Homo sapiens: one gene and its partner. The protein of the gene in region 2 interacts with the protein of the main gene of each other region in a biochemical or structural test. Each region holds a gene or a part of one and is shown on either strand. Other genes may lie near its edges.

What was found. The genes of interacting proteins can lie anywhere in the genome.
Region 1: of the proteins of MAP3K2 (region 2) and XIAP, one has a biochemical effect on the other in vitro, tested with the Homo sapiens proteins (2 studies listed by BioGRID, with this or other methods).

The regions. Positions count from the first base shown.
Region 1 is NC_000023.11:123,866,530-123,870,258, forward strand, and holds part of XIAP (E3 ubiquitin-protein ligase XIAP), read left to right. Parts: intron 1-3,729.
Region 2 is NC_000002.12:127,321,905-127,325,633, reverse strand, and holds part of MAP3K2 (mitogen-activated protein kinase kinase kinase 2), read left to right. Parts: intron 1-1,392; coding exon 1,393-1,460; intron 1,461-1,639; coding exon 1,640-1,732; intron 1,733-3,381; coding exon 3,382-3,588; intron 3,589-3,729. UniProt on the Homo sapiens protein: Component of a protein kinase signal transduction cascade. Regulates the JNK and ERK5 pathways by phosphorylating and activating MAP2K5 and MAP2K7. Plays a role in caveolae kiss-and-run dynamics.

The DNA.
Region 1 (3,729 bases), on a different chromosome or scaffold from region 2:
AATATATAATATGTATATAATAATGTATGATATATATAATATAGTATATAATATATTACATGTATAATATATTATATATAATATATAATACAATATATGTAAAATATATATAATATATAACACAATATAATATGTAAAATATATTACATATATAATATATATATTTTTCAGACAGAGTCTAGCTCTGTCACCCAGGCTGGAGTGCAGTGGTGAGATCTTGGCTCACTGAACCTCCGCCTCCCAGGTTCAAGCGATTCTTCTGCCTCAGCCTCCCAAGTAGCTGGGACTACAGGTGTGCTACCACACCTGGCTTATTTTATTTTATGTATTTATTTATTTTTCTGAGACGGAGTCTTGCTCCTGACCTCATGTGATCTGCCCGCCTCGGCCTCCCAATGTGCTGGGATTCCAGGCATGAACCACCGTGCCTGGCCAGAGATATGTGTTTATTATAGAAAATTTATGAAATAGAATAATGACGATCATATTGTCTACAGGTTGTTTTAATCCCCCCCCCCCCTTCAACATTCTATAGTTAACATTTCTGTTTTTTTTTTTGAGACGGAGTCTCGCTCTGTCGCCCAGGCTGGAGTGCAGTGGTGCGATCTCAGCTCACTGCAACCTCCGCCTCCTGGGTTCATGCCATTCTCCTACCTCAGCCTCTCTAAGTAGCTGGGACTACAGGTGCCCGCCACCACGCCTGGCTAATGTTTTTGTATTTTTAGTAGAGACGGGGTTTCACCATGGTCTCCATCTCCTGACCTCGTGATTAGCCCGCCTCAGCCTCCCAAAGTGCTGGGATTACAAGTGTGAGCCACTGCGCCCAGCAGTCTTTTTTTTTTTTTTGGTTTGGTTTGGTTTTTTAGACAGAGTCTCACTCTGTCCCCCAGGCTGGAGTGCAGTGGCACAATCTCAGCTCACTGCATCTCCGCCTCCTGGGTTCAAGTGATTCTCCTGCCTGAGCCTCCTGAGTAGCTAGGATTATAGACATGTGCTACCACGCCCGGCTAATTTTTGTATTTTTAGTGGAGGCATGGTTTCCCCATGTTGGCCAGGCTAGTCTTGAACTCCTGACCTTGTGATCCGCCCGCCTTGGCCTCCCAAAGTATTGGGATTACAGGTGTGAGCCCCCGTACCTGGCCTTTTTTTTTTTTTTTTTTTGAGACGGAGTTTTGCTCATGTTGCCCAGGCTGGAGCGCATTGGTGCAATCTCAGCTCACTGCAACCTCTGCCTCCTGGGTTTAAGTGATTCTCCTGCCTCAGCCTCCCAAGTAGCTGGGATTACAGGCGCACGCACAACCATGCCCAGTTAATTTTTCTATTTTTAGTAGAGATAGTGTTTTACCATGTTGGCCAGGCTGGTCTCGAACTCCTGACCTCAGGTCATCCACCTGCCTTGGCCTCCCAAAGTCCTGGGATTACAGGCATGAGCCACTGCGCCCAGCCTGAAGTCTTTCAAAATACATTTTTTATTTATCCAGTGTATTATTTTATACTGCACTTTCTTCATCTGTAAAGTAACAGGGTCAGGCATGGTGACTCATACCTGTAAGCCCAGCACTTTGGGAGGCTGAGGTGGGAGGATTGTTTGAGACCAGCCTGGGCAACATCGTGAGACCCCGTCTCTACCAATAATAAAAAAATTAGCTGGATGTGATGGCACGCGCCTGTGAAGATCGCTTGAGCCCGGGAGGTCAAGGTGGCAGTGAGCCATGAGGGCACCACTGCATTCTAGCCTGAGTGACAAGAGTGAGGCCCTGTCTCAAAACAAACAAACAAGCAAACAAACAAACAAAAAACCCAGGGTGGCTGGGCTTAAGGACTAGTTGATTCCAACGATTCAAAACCCATTATAATAGTTTTTAAGCCTGATTATCTGAGATTTTGTCAAGGAAAAAAATTCCACATAACAATCCCAGGCCAGGCATGGTGGCTCATGCCTTTAATCCCAGCACTTTGGGAGGCCAAGTCAGGGAGATCCCTTGAGTCCAGGAGTTCAAGACCAGCCTGGGCAACATGGTAAAATGCTATCTCTACTAAAAATAGAAAAATTAACTGGGCATGGTTGTGCGTGCACCTGTAATCCCAGCTACTCTGGAGGCTGAGGTGGGAGGATCACTTGAGCCCAGGAGGTGGAGGTTGCAGTGAGTCAAGATCAGGGCACCCCATTCCAGCTTGGGGGACAGAGCAAGACCCTATCTCAAAAAACAAAAACAGGAATTTGAGGCCAAATTTATGGATTATATATTTTATCTGCTCTGTATGTGGTTAATAATAGGTTATCCTTTATATGATAAAAACATACTTATGTCCATTTTGCAGGACTTGGCATGGGCTTTTATTGTTTTAAATTGTGATACATTTGTAGCTCTGCTGTTTGATACATTTTGGGATTTGATTTTGGTATGATTTGGTACCCAGTCTTTGTTATGGATACATGTGATTCACCTTGTTATGATATAGTTTTATGTATTTTCGAGGATATGGGTCATAGTGAAAAGTCACGTTTACCTGTACAGACTGAGAATAGCTTGATCTCAGATGGTCAGATGTTGAACCAAGTGGATTAAAGCTGATTTCTTAAACCGGACAAGGCTGCTGCCATTGTGCATTCCCTGGTACTTATAAAATATTATGGTTTGAAATTTTATTCTTATTTCTGTAATCATCTTATTCACCTTAAATACAGAAATACAGACATCTGGCTGGGCGCAGTGGCTCACACCTGAAATCCCAGCACTTTGGGTGGCCGAGGCAGGTGGATCACTTGAGGTCAGGAGTTCAAGACCAGCCTGACCAACAGAGCAAAACCCCATCTCTACTAAAAAAATACAAAAAAAAAAAAAAAAAAAAAAGCTGGGTCATGCCTCTGCAATCCCAGCTACTTAGGAGGCTGAGGCAGGAAAATTACTTGAGCCTGGGAGGTGGAGGTTGCAGTGAGCTGAGATCATGCCACTGTACTCCAGCCTGGATGACAGAGTGAGACTCCATCTCAAAAATAAAGAAAAGAAAAAAAAAACACAGACATCTCAGCATATATTACCATGTGACTTAACCTTTCTATGGTTCTAGCTAATTTTTTAGGCCTTGAAAGGGAAGGAAGCCTAACATTTTCTGCTACCTCATTGGACTGTCCCTTCTGCCAGTAATCCTTGTAGTAATTTCCTTAGACCTATATTGGTCATAATCACTGGGTGCATGACCTTTGATGAGTAACAGTCAGAACTACTGTTTCCTCATATTTCAGATGAGGCCTATGATATATTATGTAGGTTAAATTAGATTCCATATATGAAAACATTCTAAATTGTAAAGCACATTACATATGTTAGTTATTATCAAAGGTAACATCGTGAAAGAAGAGAAGATGAGCTATAGAATCACACAAGCCCATGCTTAAATTTTGACCTTACATTAAACCAAAGAGGATTGATTTTTTTTTTTAATTGAGACGGAGTCTCGCTCTGTCGCTCAGGCTGGAGTGCAGTGGCGCAATCTCAGCTCACTGCAACCTCTGCCGCCCAGGTTCAAGCGATTCTCGTGCCTCAGCCTCCTTAGTAGCTGGGACTACAGGCACGCGCCACCACGCCCAGCTAATTTTTTTGTATTTTTAGTAGAGACAGGGTTTTGCCATTTTGGCGAGGCTGGTCTCGAACTCCTGACCTCAGGTGGTCTGCCCACCTCAACCTCCCAAAGTGCTGGGATTACAGGCTTAAGCCACCATGCCCA
Region 2 (3,729 bases):
TTACTGCAGCCTTGACCTCCTTGGCTCCATCAGTCCTCCCACCTCTGACCCCCGAGGAACTAGGACCAAAGGCATTTGCTATTAATACCACATCTGGCTATTTTGTTTGTATTATTTGTAGAGATGGGGGTCTCACTTTGTTACCCAGGCTGATCTTGAACTCCTGGGCTCAAGCGAACCTCCTGCCTTGGTCTCCTAAAGCGCTGGGATTACACACATGAGCCACCATGCTCAGCTTACTGTAGTTTTCTTTTTTAATAGATATGAGTAAATATTCATACAGATAGAATGTTGAATTATCAGTAACTTTTTTGTGCTACATTCAGAGGAATAGAATTGGTACTTGTGTATGATGACGGCAGATGAATTTTTGCACAGTGTGGATAAATCCCTTTACCTCATGGGACTCAGTATCTTTGTTAGTTAAAAGGAAATCTGATTATAATAGTTTGAGTATTCCTGCTTGTCAAAATTGTGTGTTTGAAGGCAAATCAAATTTAGAATTTATGTACATTTACTTTTAAAACTGTGTTTATGAAAAGTGCTATCAACTTTTACATTAATATGTTTGGTTTTGGAAATTTCCTGAGTTATTTCACCTGTTCAGGATTATGTTCATTCTGGCACCAGATTAGAAATAATTTAAATTCTTGGAAATTGTAGCCCACTGTGTCACATTGGTACATGTAGGCAAAAATTTAAGTACTTTTGTGAAAAAGCTGTTCAGGAATATGAGCAGGATAAAGTTGCAAAATGTGAATTTTTTGTTACACGTGCTCCCCCTCCTGGTCTCAATAGGACAGTATTCTTGGTAATCCTCTCTGGAATTGCTTTATGAAAGCAAATTCTGAAAAAAATAACTAATATTGCGTGGGAATGCACATTTAAGTTTCTTTTATCCATGTATATGAAATTTCTGTCTGTGTCAATGTCTATCTTAAGGTAGACATTTAAGAAATTCAGGGAAGTAGTAACGAGAAAGCTATATATTTGAGTACTTACCATTTGCAAAACACTATCCTGGATACCTTACTTATGTACACTTGAATAGTTGGAAATTATCTTTTTTGTTGATGCAGAAGGGTGATTTGCCAAGGTTACATAGTTAAGTGGCAGAGCTTGGATTGAAACACAGTGCTTAGAAACACCTAATGATTCCAAAATACGTCATTCTTCCACTGTACTGTAAGGTTAATTTTAAGTCATGCTCTTTGCCTACATGTACCAAGTAAGTGTAGTTTTTCTTTTTTAGGTATGCTAACCTTTCAAAGTGAGCTCCTTTACACAAACACATACAGAGAGGCACAGATAGATATAGATATTGCTCAAAGATTTTCTTTTTAATGTCTTACGTTCTTTCTGTAAACTTAATGTGATGTTTTTTCTTTATAGAGAGAGCTATCCAAAATCACGAATGCCTAGGGCTCAGAGCTACCCAGATAATCATCAGGAATTTTCAGGTTAGACTTTATAAATTCTAAATGTTTAAATGTTTATGTCATTGGATAATGTTTTGGCTGGGAGGGAGAGGGGGGATTTTTGAAAAGTCAAATAAAGATTTATAAATGTGCTTTTCATCATTAGAAATATTTAACTTTTTTTTTTAAATAAAAGATAACCATCTTATATGTCTTAACAGACTATGATAACCCTATCTTTGAGAAATTTGGAAAAGGAGGAACATATCCAAGAAGGTATCATGTTTCATATCATCATCAAGAGTATAATGATGGTAAGTTTCTAGCAATTAGACCACAAGAATAGTTAAAAAATCTCAACAACAAAAATAAATACAAAAATTTTTTAAAACCTCATATTTGTGTTAATACCATTAGAAAAATATGAGGAATTGTGTTATAACAAAAGTATAATGGGCATTTTGGCTTTATGACAACTTATAAGACTTGGTTATCCCTTAAAAGAAAATGAATAATTTTTTGTTTTAAGAGACAAGGTTTTGTTGCCCAGGCGGGAGTGCTGTGGCATGATCTTAGCTCACTGTAACTTTAAATTCCTGGGCTCAAGTGATCTTCCTGCCTTGGCTTCCTGAGTTCAGGTGTGTGCCATTACAGGCATTTGCCATCACACCCAGCTAATTAAAAAATTTTTTTTGTAGAGACAGTGTCCCACCATGTTGCCCAGGCTGGTCTTGAAGTCTTGGGCTCAAGCGGTCCTCCTGCCTCAGCCTCCCAAAGTGCTGGGATTACAGGTGTGAGCCACTGCACTTGGCCAAGAAGGAGTAATTTTCTTTCTTTCTTTTTTTTTTTTCCCCTGAGACAGAGTCTCACTCTGTTCTGTCACCCAGGCTGGAGTGCAGTGGCATGATCTCTGCTCACTGCACCCTCCACCTCCTGGGTTCAAGCGATTCTCACCTGGCTAATTTTTGTATTTTTAGTAGAGATGGGGTTTTGCCATGTTGGCCAGGCTGGTCTCAAAACTCCTGATCTCCAGTGATCCACTTGCCTTGGCCTCCCAAAGTGCTAGGATTACAGGCGTGAGCCACCGTGCCCGGCCTAATTTTTGTATTTTTAGTAGAGATGGGGTTTTGCCATGTTGCCCAGGCTGGTCTCGAACTCCTGGGCTCAAGTGATCTGCCTGCCTTGGCCTCCCAAAGTGCTGGGATTACAGGCATGAGCCACTGCACCCATCCAAAAGGAGTAACTTTTAAATGATATTAGAAAATTACTCTTTGATGATGAGATTGATACTTACATCATCCCTTTAAGAAAAAAAATTACTGGCCAGGTGCGGTGGCTCATGCCTGTAATCCCAGCACTTTGGGAGGCCGAGGCGGGTGGATCACCTGAGGTCAGGAGTATGAGACCAGCCTGGCCAACGTGATGAAACCCCGTCTCTACTAAAAATACAAAAAATTAGCTGGGCATGGTGGTGGGCGCCTGTAATCCCAGCTACTTGGGAGGCTGAGACAGGAGAATCGCTTGAACCCTGGAGGCGGAGGTTGCAGTGAGCCGAGATTGTACCACTGCACTCCAGCCTGGGCAACAAGAGTGAAACTCCATCTCAAAAAGAAAAGAAAAAAATTACTACCTGTGAACTTCTGCATCTTTGTTTTAGATTTTAAAATCATTATTGGAAATGAGAGTAAATTTTTTTCCTCCTTTTTATCCAGAAGTGAGGAGGTTCCTTTTTAAGATGTGTGTGTGTATGTTTCTGTGTGCACACTCATACATGTTTTATCATAAGAGATTATTTGAATTTGTATTCAGATCCTGTTTATTTTTTCCCACCCAATCATTCCTATTTGAGTTTCTTAGCCTAGTCACAGGACAAATTTCTATTCTCTACATTACAAATTTTAAATACTTTAAAAGTATAACATATTAATAAAAGGTATAAGGTCATTCTCTTTTCATTTTTTAGGTCGTAAAACTTTTCCAAGAGCTAGAAGGACCCAGGGGACCAGCTTACGGTCTCCTGTGAGTTTCAGTCCTACTGATCATTCCTTAAGCACTAGTAGTGGAAGCAGTATCTTTACCCCAGAGTATGATGATAGTCGAATAAGAAGAAGGGGAAGTGACATAGACAATCCTACTTTGACCGTAATGGACATCAGCCCACCCAGCCGTTGTAAGTAATAGAACTTGGTATAGTGAAATGTAGAGCAGAATCTTTGCAGAATTTTATATTATTAAAAGGAATAAATACTAAGTGAGTTTTTGGGGTCAGATGAACTACTCAAAAAAGGTAATAATGGTGTTTCTAAAGGTG